3 separate regions of the Homo sapiens genome follow, and regions 2 and 3 are each linked to region 1. The links come from fine-mapping of genetic effects on gene expression. A gene starts in region 1. Each other region holds a variant in brackets. All regions are shown on one strand. Distances are between the middles of the regions. Region 1 holds the start of ZNF140 (zinc finger protein 140). Region 2 overlaps LOC124903064 (a long non-coding RNA gene). Region 3 overlaps ZNF26 (zinc finger protein 26).

Region 1 (4,241 bases):
TTTTTTTATTTTTATTTTTTGAGATGGAGCCTCACTCTGTCGCCCAGGCTGGAGTGCAGTAGCGCCAACTTGGCTCACTGCAAGCTCCACCTCCCAGGTTCAAGTGATTCTCCTGCCTCAGCTTCCCAAGTAGCTGGGAATACAGGCACCCACCACCATGCCCAGGTAATTTTTGTATTTTTAGTAGAGACGAGGTTACACTCTGGCCTGTTGGCCAGGCTGATTGCAAACTCCTGACCTCAGGTGATCTGCCCGCCTTAGCCTCCCAAAGTGCTGGGATTACAGGCATGAGCCACAGCACCCGGCAACTCCATCTTAAATAAGAACTGGGTAAAATAAGGCTGAGGCATACTGGGCTGCGTTCCAAGACCGTTAGGCATTCTAACTCACAGTATGAGACAGCAGGTCAGCATGAGACACAGGTCATAAAGACCTTGCTGATAAAAGTTTACAGTAAAGAAGCCGGCTAAAACCCACCAAAACCAAGATGGCAATGAGAGTGACTTCTGGCTGTCCTCATTGCTACGTCTTCCACTGTCAGAGGCGGTTGAACCAGGGCAACTCTATCTTGAGTAGGGGCTGGTTAAAATAAGGCTGAGACCTGCTGGGCAGCATTCCCTGGAGGTTAAGGCATTCGTAGTCACAGGATGAGACATGAGGCTGGCACAAGATACAGGTCATAAAGACCTTGCTGATAAAACAGGTTGCAGTAAAGAAGCCGACTAAAACCGAGATAGCGATGAGAACGACCTGATTGTCCTCACTGCCCACCAGTGGCTATGGCAACGTCAGGAAGTTACCCTATATGGTCTAAAAAGAGGATGCATGAATAATCCACCCCTTGTTTAGCATATCATCAAGAAATAACCACAAAAATGCGCAACCAGCAGCCCTCGGGGCTGCCCTGCCTATGGATTAGCCATTCTTTATTCCTTTACTTTCCTAATAAACTTGCTTTCACCTTATGGATTCGCCTCAAATTCTTTCTTGTGCAAGATCCAAGAACCCTCTCTTAGAGTCTGAGATCCGGACCCCTTTCCAGTAGCAAAAGGTCTTAGACTGAAGTACTGACTCCACAGTCGTTGTTAAGAATCCTAGTTGTTTAATAGAGGCGGTCTTGGGCTCTTGCTGGGCCGCGGTGTGTTCTGGGAAGTGTAGTCACCTGAGTCTCCAGTTCCTTGTCTCTGGGCCGTGTGTGCACGCCAGCGAAGCACTGTGGGAGTCGTAGTAGGGGAGGAAAACCCTATACCCTCTGGCGTGCGGCGCAGGAGTTTGGGGGAATGTAGTCGCCAGAGCTCTGCGTTGTCTTCCGGCTTTGGGCGTGGCCACGATGCACTCTGGGAGTCGTAGTAGGGGAAGAACGTCCTCCGCTCTTTTGCGCACGGTCGCTAGAGGTTCTGGGAAGTGTAGTTGCCTGAAGCTCGTGTTCTTTGTCTTTCGATGATGTGCGCTTGGCCTCAAAGCACCCTGGGAGTTGCAGTGGGGCGGGGAAAGCCATATGCTCTCTCGCGCGGGGTCGCGGTTGTTTCTGGGAAGTGTGGTGGCCTGAGTTCCACGTTCTTCGTTTCTCCGCTAGTTGTGCGCTTGGCCGCGAGACACTCTGGCAGTTATAGGAACACAAAGGTCTGTGTACTCTTCCGCGGGGGGCCGCGGTTATTTCTGGGAAATGTAGTTGCCTAGGACCCGGGTTCTTTGTTTCTCGGCTCTGGGCGTGGGAGGATAGCCCCTATGCTCTGGCGCACCGGGCCGCGATGGCTCTGGGAATTGTAGTTGTCGCAGGCCCTCGTTCTTTGTCTCCTGGCGTTCTGGGCACGGCAGCGAGGCGCTCTGGGAGTTCCAGTAGGAACGAAAAGCCCTTGCGCGCAGGGCCGCATTGGTTTCTGGGAATTGTAGTTTCTTGAGGCCGGCGGCCTGGTTGGGGTGACGTCGGCGAGGCTTCTGAAGACGCAATTCCTGCGACGCCCGCGGAGGGGCCCTGGGGGGCGGCGCCGAGCGTCTGGCCTGTGTTGGCTGTAGGCAACGAAAGGAGCCCTCCCGGTCTGCGCCGGATGGCCCCGGGCGGTGACTCGGTCCGGAGCCCTGGAACGCTACGCCCACCTGGCGGAAAGCACCACGGAAACGCATCCTTCTGTGGCCACTGTTAGGTGAGGGGGTTCTGGGGAGGCGCGCCGTGGCAGGAAGAGAAAGCCGGCGCCAGTGGTCCAAGCGCGATCTCTCAGGGCGCCCTGCTCTCTACGTGGGAGGCGCGGAGCGGGGGCCACGGGAATCCCCAGTGCGGGAATCTAGTGACTTGGGCGCGGCCTAGCTGGCCTGTTCGCTCAGGGCTCCTTTCTCTCTCTGCCAGGTCTGCCATTTTACACTTTTCTGATCTCCTCCTTCCCTTCTGTGAGCTATGTCTCAGGTAAGCTAATGATTGATAAATATATATATATATATATATATAAATTTTTATTTTTTTTTTAAGAGAGAGACAGGGTCTCCTCCTGTCGCCCAGGCAGTGGAGCGATCATAGCATCCTGTAACCTCAAACTCTTGGCCTCAAGTGAGCCAACCCACTTGGCCTGTTTCCGCTTTTCTTTGTGAAGTGCAGCCGTGTTTTTCAGGACTTGGGACGTGGCTTTCTTTCTCCTACAACCACCTGCCTGGCAGAACCCCAGGACCCTGTCCCTTGTTCCTCCTTTTCAGGTGCTTATACTTAAGTATACATGAAGAGAGTGACAGGAAGCTATCCAGATGTGGGCGGGGTTTCTGACCTGGCTGGCATGTTTTAGGGTGAGAGGGTAGGGTGCCAGCTGTTACATCGCCTCCTCTTTCCCACAGTGTTAGAATGAGGAGTGCTTTACGTTACTCCAGCGCCCCTTTATTCATTTATTCAATATGTTTTTACTGAACCTCTACTTTCAGTGGTTCCCACAGTGTGATCCTTGGACCAGCAGTATCAGCATCATCTGAGAACGTATTAGAAATGAATATTCTTGAGTCCTACCCCAGACCTTCTGAATCAGAAACTGAGAATTTGGCCCAGCAGTCTAACAGTCCTTCCAAGTGATTCTAATGTGCAACTCATTCTAAGTCTTGAGGATGCAGAAGTGACCAAAACAAAATCTCCGAATCCTCAGAGCTCATTTTTCAGACATGACATAAGGAACACATTTTTATTTTGATTTGGCCTAAGGGCTTGGCTGGTAATTGTGCTTCACAGCAGTGGGGATAACAGGGTCAACTATTCAAAATGAGTCCCTCATTTCAGTTCCACTTCTTTATCCTACTTTTTGTCATACTTCTCTCCAAATTCAGAGGTTCTCTGAGTTTTGCTGGGGAATCCAATTTCCACCTCTGCTGCAGATCTTGCTGTGTAGGAAACAGCTGCTTTATTAGTCAACAGTCTTTAATCACTTTTTTATTAAACTTCAAAACTGTAAATTATAACTGCCATCCATCTGGGACTGCTACTAGTTTGAGACATTTTAAATTCCCATTCATGCCTTATAGATCAATGTGGATCACTCAAGTGGTGCAAAACCAGGCTGCAAAGCAAGGGCTTATATATTATTCCCCCTAACTCTGAGGGAAAGTGCTTTAGGTTCTGTCCTGGGAGGTATTACATTCTCTTCTTGCGGAATCAAGATTCTTTATTGCTTATCCTCCTTGTTCTGTGACATTGCTAAAATTACCACTAAGTTTCACAGGTATTTCTTTAGGATTAGGGATAACTGTGACAAACTTGAGACTGTATGCCCCATTTGAAGGGTGGTGCTGTTATCTGCTGTAGCGAATTATTACCCTGAAGAAATTCTGGCTGAATTATATTAAAATAGGCTGGTATTAAGGAAAATATACATTGTTTATTAACATAAAGGAATACTGTAAAATCTTAAGAATTTTTACAACCAATGCCAAAAATCCATATTGTTCATGTGTATAATCCTTTATTTTGAATAAAATTGTAAATTATCTCAGGACAGATAATTTATGTTTTTCTCCTTTTCTCCAGTTATACAACAAAACACAAGAGCTAGGCTCTTCATTATATAATTACTCAGAATTCTGAAAACTCTCACTGTTACTACTTAGACACATTGCCTAACCTCCACAGTGAGACTCATTTTATTCCTTGATGAGGGAGTTTGGGGGCATGCGTGCTGGTCATGCAAATATCTGTCCGTCATTTCAGGGGTCAGTGACATTCAGAGATGTGGCCATAGACTTCTCCCAGGAGGAGTGGAAATGGCTTCAGCCTG
Region 2 (4,241 bases), 100 kb before region 1:
GGTGAAGCCAGCGCCTGGGAAGACGCCCGTTGCCAAGCGGACCATGGTCTAGCGGTAGCGTCAGTGCTTAGAAAAGGCACCGGTTACTTAGCAGACCGGGAAAGGGAATCTCCCTTTCTCCGGGGGAGGTAGAGAAGACTCTGCTCCACCACCTCTTGTGGAGGTCCTGACATCAGTCAAGCCCGCCCGCAGTCATCCGGAGGCCTGACCGTCTCCCTGTGATGCTGTGCTTCTGCGGTCACGCTCCTGGTCCACTTTCATGTTCCACCCTGTACACCTGGATCTGCCTTCTAGATAGCAGTAGCAGAATTAGTGAAAGTACTAAAAGTCTTTGAAATGCAGAAGTAATGGCGTAAGCTGTCTCTTTCTCCGCCTCGGCTGCCAAACAGGGAAAGGTGCCCTGTCCAGTGGACACGTGACCCACATGACCTTAGCTATCATTGGAGATGGCTCACGCTCCTTACCCTGCCCCCTTGTCTTGTATCCAATAAATAACAGCACAGCCAGGCATTCGGGGCCACTACCGGTCTCCGCGTCTTGGCGGTAGTGGCCCCCCGGGCCCTGCTGTCTTTTCTTCTATCTCTTTGTCTTGTGTCTTTATTTCTATGATCTCTCGTCTCCGCACATGGGGAGAAAATCCCACAGACCCTGTAGGGCTAGACCCTACAGGCATGGTGGCACATGCCTATAGTCTCAGCTACTTGGGAGGCTGACTTGGGAGAACCCAGGAGTTTGAGGCTGCGGTGAGCCATGTTTGTGCTACTGCACTCCAGCCTGGGTGACAGAGTGAGACACTGTCTCAAAAGAAAAAAAAATTTGAGTAGACCATAAAATAATCATTAGACCAAACGATAGCATTATTGTAACTCTGGTTTATAACTCCACATTTTCTTTTTTTTTAAACATAATTTAAGAGATTAATGCATTTAAAAGAAGGATTAATGTATGTTTTGGGGCATGCAATGTATAAGGATGTAATTTTGTGACATCAGCAAATCAAAGGGGTGGGAGCAGAGCTTTAAAGGAGCAGAGTTCTCACCTGTTATTAAAGTTAAACTGGTAAAAATTCAAATTAGAGCGTTATCGTTTCCGATGTTAAATGTACTCCTCATGGCAACCACAAAAAATAGCTATAGAACAGACACAAAAGAACATCAGAAAGGAATTTAAACATTCCACTATAAAAAATCAACTAGGTCGGGCGCAGTGGCTCACCCCTGTAATCCCAGCACTTTGGGAGACCAAGGTGGGTGGATCACCTGAGGTCAGGAGTTTGAGACCAGCCTGGCTAACATGGTGAAACCCTGTTTCTACTAACAATACAAAAAATTAGCCGGGCATGGTGGTGTGCGCCTGTAATCCCAGCTACTCAGGAGGCTGAGGCAGGAGAGTTGCTTGAACCCGGGAGGCAGAGGTTGCAGTGAGTCGAGATTGTGCCATTGCATTCCAGCTTGAGCAACAAGAGCAAAACTCCCTCTCAAAAAAAATAGATAAATAAACACAAAAGAAGACAGCAATGCAGGAAATTAGAGATAAAAACGCTTATAAGCCACTTCAAAAACAAAGCAAAATGACAGAAATAATATCTTCCGGCCAGGCACGGTGGCTCACACCTGTAATCCCAGCATTTTGGGAGGCTGAGAC[A/T]GGTGGATCACCTGAGGTCAGGAGTTCGAGACCAGCCTGACCAATATGGTGAAACCCTCGTCTCTGTTAAAAATGCAAACATTAGCTGGGCGTGGTGGCACGCATCTGTAGTCCCAGCTACTCGGGAGGCTGAGGCAGTAGAATCACTTGAACCCGGGAGGCGGAGGTTGCAGTGAGCTGAGATTGCGCCACTGCACTCCAGCCTGGGTGACAGAGCGAAACTCCATCTCAAAAAAAAAACTTCCTCATTAGTAGTTAATTTACATGTAAATGATAAACTTTTCAATCAAAAGACTTACATTTGAAGATTGAATAAAAATACATAATTCCACTATATGCTGTTATAAGAGACTGACTTTACATCCAAAAACACAAATAGTAGAAAGTGAAAGGATTGAAAAAGATATTCCATGTAAATATCCCAAAGAAAGCAGTGATGGTTGCATCAGACAAAATAGCCTTTAAACCAAAACAGATCACAAGACAAAGAATAACCTTGTAGATTAATAAAATATTCAACATAGGACATTATAATACTTATATATCTAATAACAGACCATAAAAATATATAAAGCAAAAACTGACAGAATTCATGAGAGCAATATTCTAGAGTAATAATTGAAGACTTCAATACCTCACTCTGTTTATGACTTAAGATATTTGCATCACTGTTGACAAGTGAAATCAATTTTTGTTTTCATTTTCTGTGATACTTTTTTAGGTTAACATAGTATTGTTATAATTGCTCCAGAAATTCGGAAGTTTTTTTGTTTGTTTGTTTGTTCTTTTTTGAAACGGAGTCTCATTCTGTTGCCAGGCTGGAGTGCAGTGGCGCGATCTCGGCTCACTGCAACTTCCGACTCCTGGGTTCAAGTGATTCTCCTGCCTCAGCCTCCTGAGTAGCTGGGATTACAGGTGCCCACCACCACGCCCGGCTAATTTTTGTATTTTTAGTAGAGACGGGGTTTCACCATGTTAGCCAGGATGGTCTTGATCTCCTGACGTCGTGATCCGTCTGCCTCGGCCTCTGAAAGTACTGGGATTACAGGTGTGAGCCATCACGCCCGGCCAGAAGTATTATTTATTCTGGAATAATTTATGAGCATTGGGATTATCTGGTCTTTGAAGTTTGGCAGCATTTTCCTATGAAACCATCAAAATCTGTTACTTTTTTGTGGGGTGGTTCTTCACAAGTTTATTTGATGAAAAGTAGGCTGTTGAGTCTTCTGAGGTAAATCTTGGAAAATTCAATTTTCCTAAGAATTTAATCATTTCATCTAGGTCTTCAAAATGTTTTTGCCTAGAGTTGGGCAAAAACGTCTTTTATGATTTAAAAAACATCTATCTTTTGTTTCAGTAGTTATTTCCTCTTTGTATGTCTTATTTTGTATATTTGTACTTTTTCTCTTTTTGCTGGATTAGAACACCGAGTTTTCTATTTTGTTAACGTTCTTCAAAAACAAATGTTTTTATTTATTAGTTCTGCTGTTGTTCTGCTTTCGACCTCATTTATTTCTGCTTTTATCTCTCTCATTTCCAATAGTCAAACTCAGTGGCCTTAATTAAGTTTTATTGAAATACAATTCACATGCCACAAAATGTGTCGATTGTAAGTATTCAATTCAGTGATACTAGTAAATTCATAGAGTTTTACTACCATGACCACAATGCAGCCTTAGAACATCTTCATTACCAAAGTTCTTTATGCCCATTTACATTTAACCCCTGTTCCTACTCCTATCCTTAGGCAACTACTGATGTGATTTTTCACTCTACAAATTTGCATTTTCTAGACATTTTATATCCACAAAATCATACATGCGATGACTTTTCTGTCTAGCTTCTTGACATCAGCATCATGTTTTTGAGGTTTATTCACATCGCATGTATCAGCACTTCCCCCCTCTTCTAATTGCTGAACAGTATTCCATCGTTATGGCTATACCACGTTTGTTTATCCAGGCATCATTTGATGGACATTTGAGTTGCTTTCACTTTTCTTTATCCAGTCAGCAGTTGATAGACATTTTGGGTTGTTTCCAGTTTCTGGCTATTATAAATAATATTGCTGGTCGGGTGCGGTGGCTCACGCCTGTAATCCCAGCACTTTGGGAGGCCGAGGTGGGCGGATCACGAGATCAGGAGATCGAGACCATCCTGGCTAACACGGTGAAACCCCGTCTCTACTAAAAATACAAAAAATTAGCTAGGCATGGTGGCGGGCACCTGTAGTCCCAGCTACTCAGGAGGCTGAGGCAGGAGAATGGCGTGAACCCGGGAGGCGGAGCTTGCAGTGAGCCGAGATCGTGCCACTGCACTCCAGCCTGGGCCAGAGTGAGACTCCGTCTCAAAATAATAATAATAATAATAATAATAATAATAATATTGCTATAAACATTATCATAAACGACTTTATACAGACATAAGTTTTCATTTTCTCTTAGCTATCTAGAAGTAGCATTGCAGAGTCATGCGGTAAGTTTATGGTTAACTTTTTAAGTAATGGTCAAACTGTTCTCCAAAGTGACTGCTATTTTTACATCTCACTAGCAAAGCATGAAGGCTCGTTTCTCCACATACTTGCCTACACTAGGTAT
Region 3 (4,241 bases), 53 kb before region 1:
GGCACGATCCTGGCTCACTGCAGCCTCCTCCTACTGGGTTCAAGCAGTTCTCTGCCTCAGCCTCCCAAGTAGCTGGGATTACAGGTGCTCGCCACCATACTTGGCTAATTTTTGTATTTTTAGTAGAGATGGGGTTTCACCATCTTGGGCAGGCTGGTCTTGAACTCCTGACCTCATGATCCACCTGCCTCGGCCTCCCAAAGTGCTGGGATTACAGGCGTAAGCCACTGCGCCTGGCCAATAAGTCTCTTTTTTTAGGTAATCAAGTTAAAATAATAAGTCACTAAATTTTGAGGTGTTCTGTTATGTAGAAGAGTGACTGGACCAACCCATAAAAAGGACAACTTCATATAGTTCAACTTTTTTTTTTTTTTTTTTTTTTTTTGATACAGAGTCTCGTTCTGTCACCCAGGCTGGAGTGCAGTGGCATAATTTCAGCTCATGGCAACCTCCGCCTCCAAGGTTCAAGTGATTATCATGCCTCAGCCTCCCAAGTAGCTGAGATTACGGGCACCTGCCACCACGCCTGGATAATGTTTGTATTTTTAGTAGAGGTGGGGTTTCACCATGTTGACTAGGCTGGTCTCGAACTCCTGACCTCAGGTGATCTGCCCGCCTTGGCCTCCCAAAGTGCTGGGATTACAGGCATGAGCCATTGCATCTGGCCTAGTTCAACTTTATAAATAAATATGTCAAAGATAATTCAATATTAAAGTTTATATATTTATCATTTTAACCAAATAATGTAGAAATAGAGTGATATGAAACATAAATACCTATATAGGTTAAGAAAAATATTCAATAAATTGGAACAATTCTTTGTTATAAAATTCTTAAGAAACTCAGAATAAAATGCAACACCTTTTTACGATTATAAACCCCTCAGCAAACATACTTCAAGCAGAACCTTACGAACAGTATAATTAAAATGAGGAACCGCTGAGATCACTGCTCTCTCATTATTTCTCCCGGCGTTGAGCTGGAGTCCTAACCAATGTGGTAAGACAAGGAATGAAGATTAAGAGGTATATGGGCTGGAAAGAAAGAGGAATGTTTGTGGTTATTTGCAAGCAAGATCTTGTGATGATTAATGTTAGGTGTCAGCTTGACTGGATTAAAGGATACCCAGATAGCTGGCGAAGTATTATTTCTGGCTATGCCTGTGGGGGTTTTTCCAGACGAGACTGGCATTTGAATCAGGTAAGGAAGATTCACCCTCACCCAATGTGAGTGGGCACTGTCCAATCTGTTGAGGGCCCAGACAGAAGAAAAAGGCTGACGAGAGGTGAATTCTCTCTCTCCTGGAGCTGAGACATCATCTTCTTCTGCCCTTCAACATCAGAACCTAAGGTTCCTGGGCTTTCAGCCTCCAACTGGGAGTTATGCCACAGGCTTCCCTGGTTTTGAGGCCTTGGTACTTGGACTGAGCCACTCTTCCAGCTTCCCACCCGGAGTGGGAACCTATGGTTCCTTTTCCTGGCCGTCCATGGCCGCCCATGAACCAATCGGCAAGCACTTCCTCCTCTCTCAGACCCGTACAAACCACAGGCTCAGCCAGAGGTGATCAGATGGGGGACCATCTGCCTGCAGAGAGGAGCCAGTCACTCTAGGGCCTCCTCTCTGCTGAGAGCTGAGCCCTCGTCAGGACAACCAGCTGCAGAGAGGAGGTACCCTCTGTGCAAGGAGCTAAACACTGGGGGACACGCTAGCTGCAGATAGGAGCTGCCCCCTGCGGTCTCCTCTGAGCTATTCTATCACTCAATAAAGCTCCCCTTCGTCTTGCTCACCCTCACTTGTCTGCCTACCTACTTCTTTCTGGTCGCAGGACAAGAACTCAGGACCCGCTGAATGGCAAGGCTGAAAGAGCTGTAACACACACAGCTGAAACATGCCCCTTGCTTGCCACATTGTGGGTGAAGAGAAAAAGAGAAGAGCTTCAGCCCTTCGAGGAGCCCAGACCTGGGAGATCTTTGAGCCAGGGCTGTGACTTCCTCTTTGGGGACCTGTGGTGTTTGGGGTCTCCAAGCCTTTGGGCAACACCGCATTCTCCAGTGCCAGCCATGGAAGCTGCTTGTGGTGTCCCTAGTCCAGCCGCAGCCTCACAGAGAGCTGGCACCCCTGCTGGCACCTGGAGCTGCCTGCCCCACAGCAGCAGCCAGTGTGTCGGTGCAGTGGCTGAATCCCATGCTTGCTCACACACCCCTTGCTGCTCCACACCTGACTCTCAGTCTCCCTTAGAGGTGTGGGATCTGGGCTGGTAGTGTGAGCTGAGAACAGCATGCTAGGCCAAGGGGGCAGAATGAGCCCAGCGAGCCTGAGCAAAACTCGAGCAAAGGTGCCACTGGCCACAGAGGTTCCTGACAAGAAAAGTGACACCTCAAAGATCCCATAAC[A/AT]TTTTTTTTTTAAGAGTTTCGCTCTTGTCGCCCAGGCTGGAGTGCAATGGCGCAGTTGGCTCACTGCAACCTCTGCCTCCCGGGTTCAAGCAATTCTTCTGCCGCAGCCTCCTGAGTAGCTGGGATTACAGGCATCCACCACCACGCCTGGCTAATTTTTGTATTTTTAGTAGAGACGGGGTTTCACCATGTTGGCCAGGCTGGTCTCGAACTCCTGACCTCAGGTGATCCGCCTGCCTCGGCCTCCCAAAGTGCTGGGATTACAGGCGTGAGCCAACACTCCTGGCTTCTCATGACCTTATTTAGCCTTAATTATTTTATTAAACATTCCACTTCCCAGTACAGCAACACTGGGGGTTAGGGCTTCAATATATGACTTAAGCGGCACATTCAGTCCATGATTCCACCAACTTCCAATAAGAAAACATACTATAGGCAGGGTGTGGCGGCTCACACCTGTAATTCCAGCATTTTGGGAGGCCGAGGTGGGTGGATCACCTGAGGTCAGGAGTTCAAGACAAGCCTGGCCAACATGGTGAGACCCCATCTCTACAAAAGTACCAAAAAAATTAGCTAGGCTTGGTGGCGAGCGCCTGTAATCCCAGCTGCTTGGGAGGTTGAGATGGAAGAATCACTTGAATCCTGGAGGTGGAGGTTGCATTGAGCCAAGATCATGCCATTGCACTGCAGCCTGGGTGACAGAGTAAGACTCCATCTCAAAAACAACCAACAACAATAACAAAAAATACTATAAAAAACCCTCATATTCATTATAGCAATAGAAATAAGCTACTTAGAAATATATCTTATAAAATGTTAAATTTAAAATGAGAACTGTCTGGGAATAAATCTTCCAAAAACCACATATAAACTGAAAAATTATGAATACAATAATGTTTTAAAGTTTGTAAAAGAAAAACTAAAAAATGGGCCGGGCATGGTGGCTCACGCCTGTAATCCCAGCACTTTGGGAGGCCGAAGCAGGTAGATCACGAGGTCATGAGATCGAGACCATCCTGGCTAACATTGGGAGGCTGAAGCAGGTGGATCACGAGGTCATGAGATCGAGACCATCCTGGCTAACATGGTGAAACCCCATCTCTACTAAAAATACAAAAAATTAGCTGGCAGTGGTGGCGGGCGCCTATAGTCCCAGCTACTTGGGAGGCTGAGGCAGGAGAATGGCGTGAACCCGGGAGGCAGAGCTTGCAGTGAGCCGAGATTGCGCCACTGTACTCCAGCGTGGGTGACAGAGCGAGACTCCATCTCAAAAAAAAAAAGAAAAAAGAAAAAATGGAAAGATATATTTGTTACTGAGCAATAGGCTTACTTTACAACATGCACAGAAGCCAACATTATGGTTCCCTCTTTTGAGGAAGAAAAAAAAAAAGCTTTATACCAAGTCAACTGGCAAGGAGACAAGAGGCAATGCTCAGATCTGTCTCTGTGATTGGGGTGGGTCAAGATTTTATGGCATTTCCAGCTAGACCCAGATGATGCCAATGCAGGCCTGTCAGGCTGGTGATGATAACAATTAGAAATTAAAGCTTTTTGCATTGCATGTGCCAAGGCAATTTTGGCTGTGTGTGTACCTGCAACAACTTAAGAAATGGTTAATTTGTTTGAGCTGGTCCCACAGTTACAGGTACCCCCCTTTTTGTGCACTCCTCAATCTTGAGGGAAGTGGGGTGATGACCATTCTAGCTACTTCATGCTTTCAAGTCACGCAGGTCTGAGTACAAAGAATGCATGAGTGGGGCTACTGACATACAAGATAGCTCTGCTCCATCTGTACCTTGACAAGAAGGAAAAGGAATCCCAACATACATACAATTATAGTTCTTAACT

What was found. PIP is the estimated chance that this variant, and not a neighbour inherited with it, causes the effect.
Region 2: its variant is the best candidate, but not a certain one, in a credible set for the expression of ZNF140 in whole blood (INTERVAL, PIP 0.80).
Region 3: its variant is the best candidate, but not a certain one, in a credible set for the expression of ZNF140 in whole blood (INTERVAL, PIP 0.55).

Annotation. Positions count from the first base shown.
Region 1 is chr12:133,078,929-133,083,169 of GRCh38, forward strand. ZNF140 (zinc finger protein 140) reads left to right here and starts at 1,995. Exons shown (of 5, transcript NM_003440.4): 1 at 1,995-2,144; 2 at 2,345-2,401; 3 at 4,175-4,241. The coding sequence starts at 2,393. RefSeq lists enhancers at 1,024-1,713, 1,784-1,983.
Region 2 is chr12:132,977,092-132,981,332 of GRCh38, forward strand. The region is part of intron 1 of LOC124903064 (a long non-coding RNA gene); the gene reads left to right. Among named protein-coding and RNA genes, the nearest start is that of ZNF26, 7.2 kb to the right of the region's middle. RefSeq lists a silencer at 1-80. The variant A/T (reference allele first, on the strand shown) is at 1,645.
Region 3 is chr12:133,026,160-133,030,400 of GRCh38, forward strand. It overlaps ZNF26 (zinc finger protein 26), which reads left to right. Exons shown (of 4, transcript NM_019591.4): 4 at 1-943. Among named protein-coding and RNA genes, the nearest start is that of ZNF84-DT, 8.9 kb to the right of the region's middle. The variant A/AT (reference allele first, on the strand shown) is at 2,394.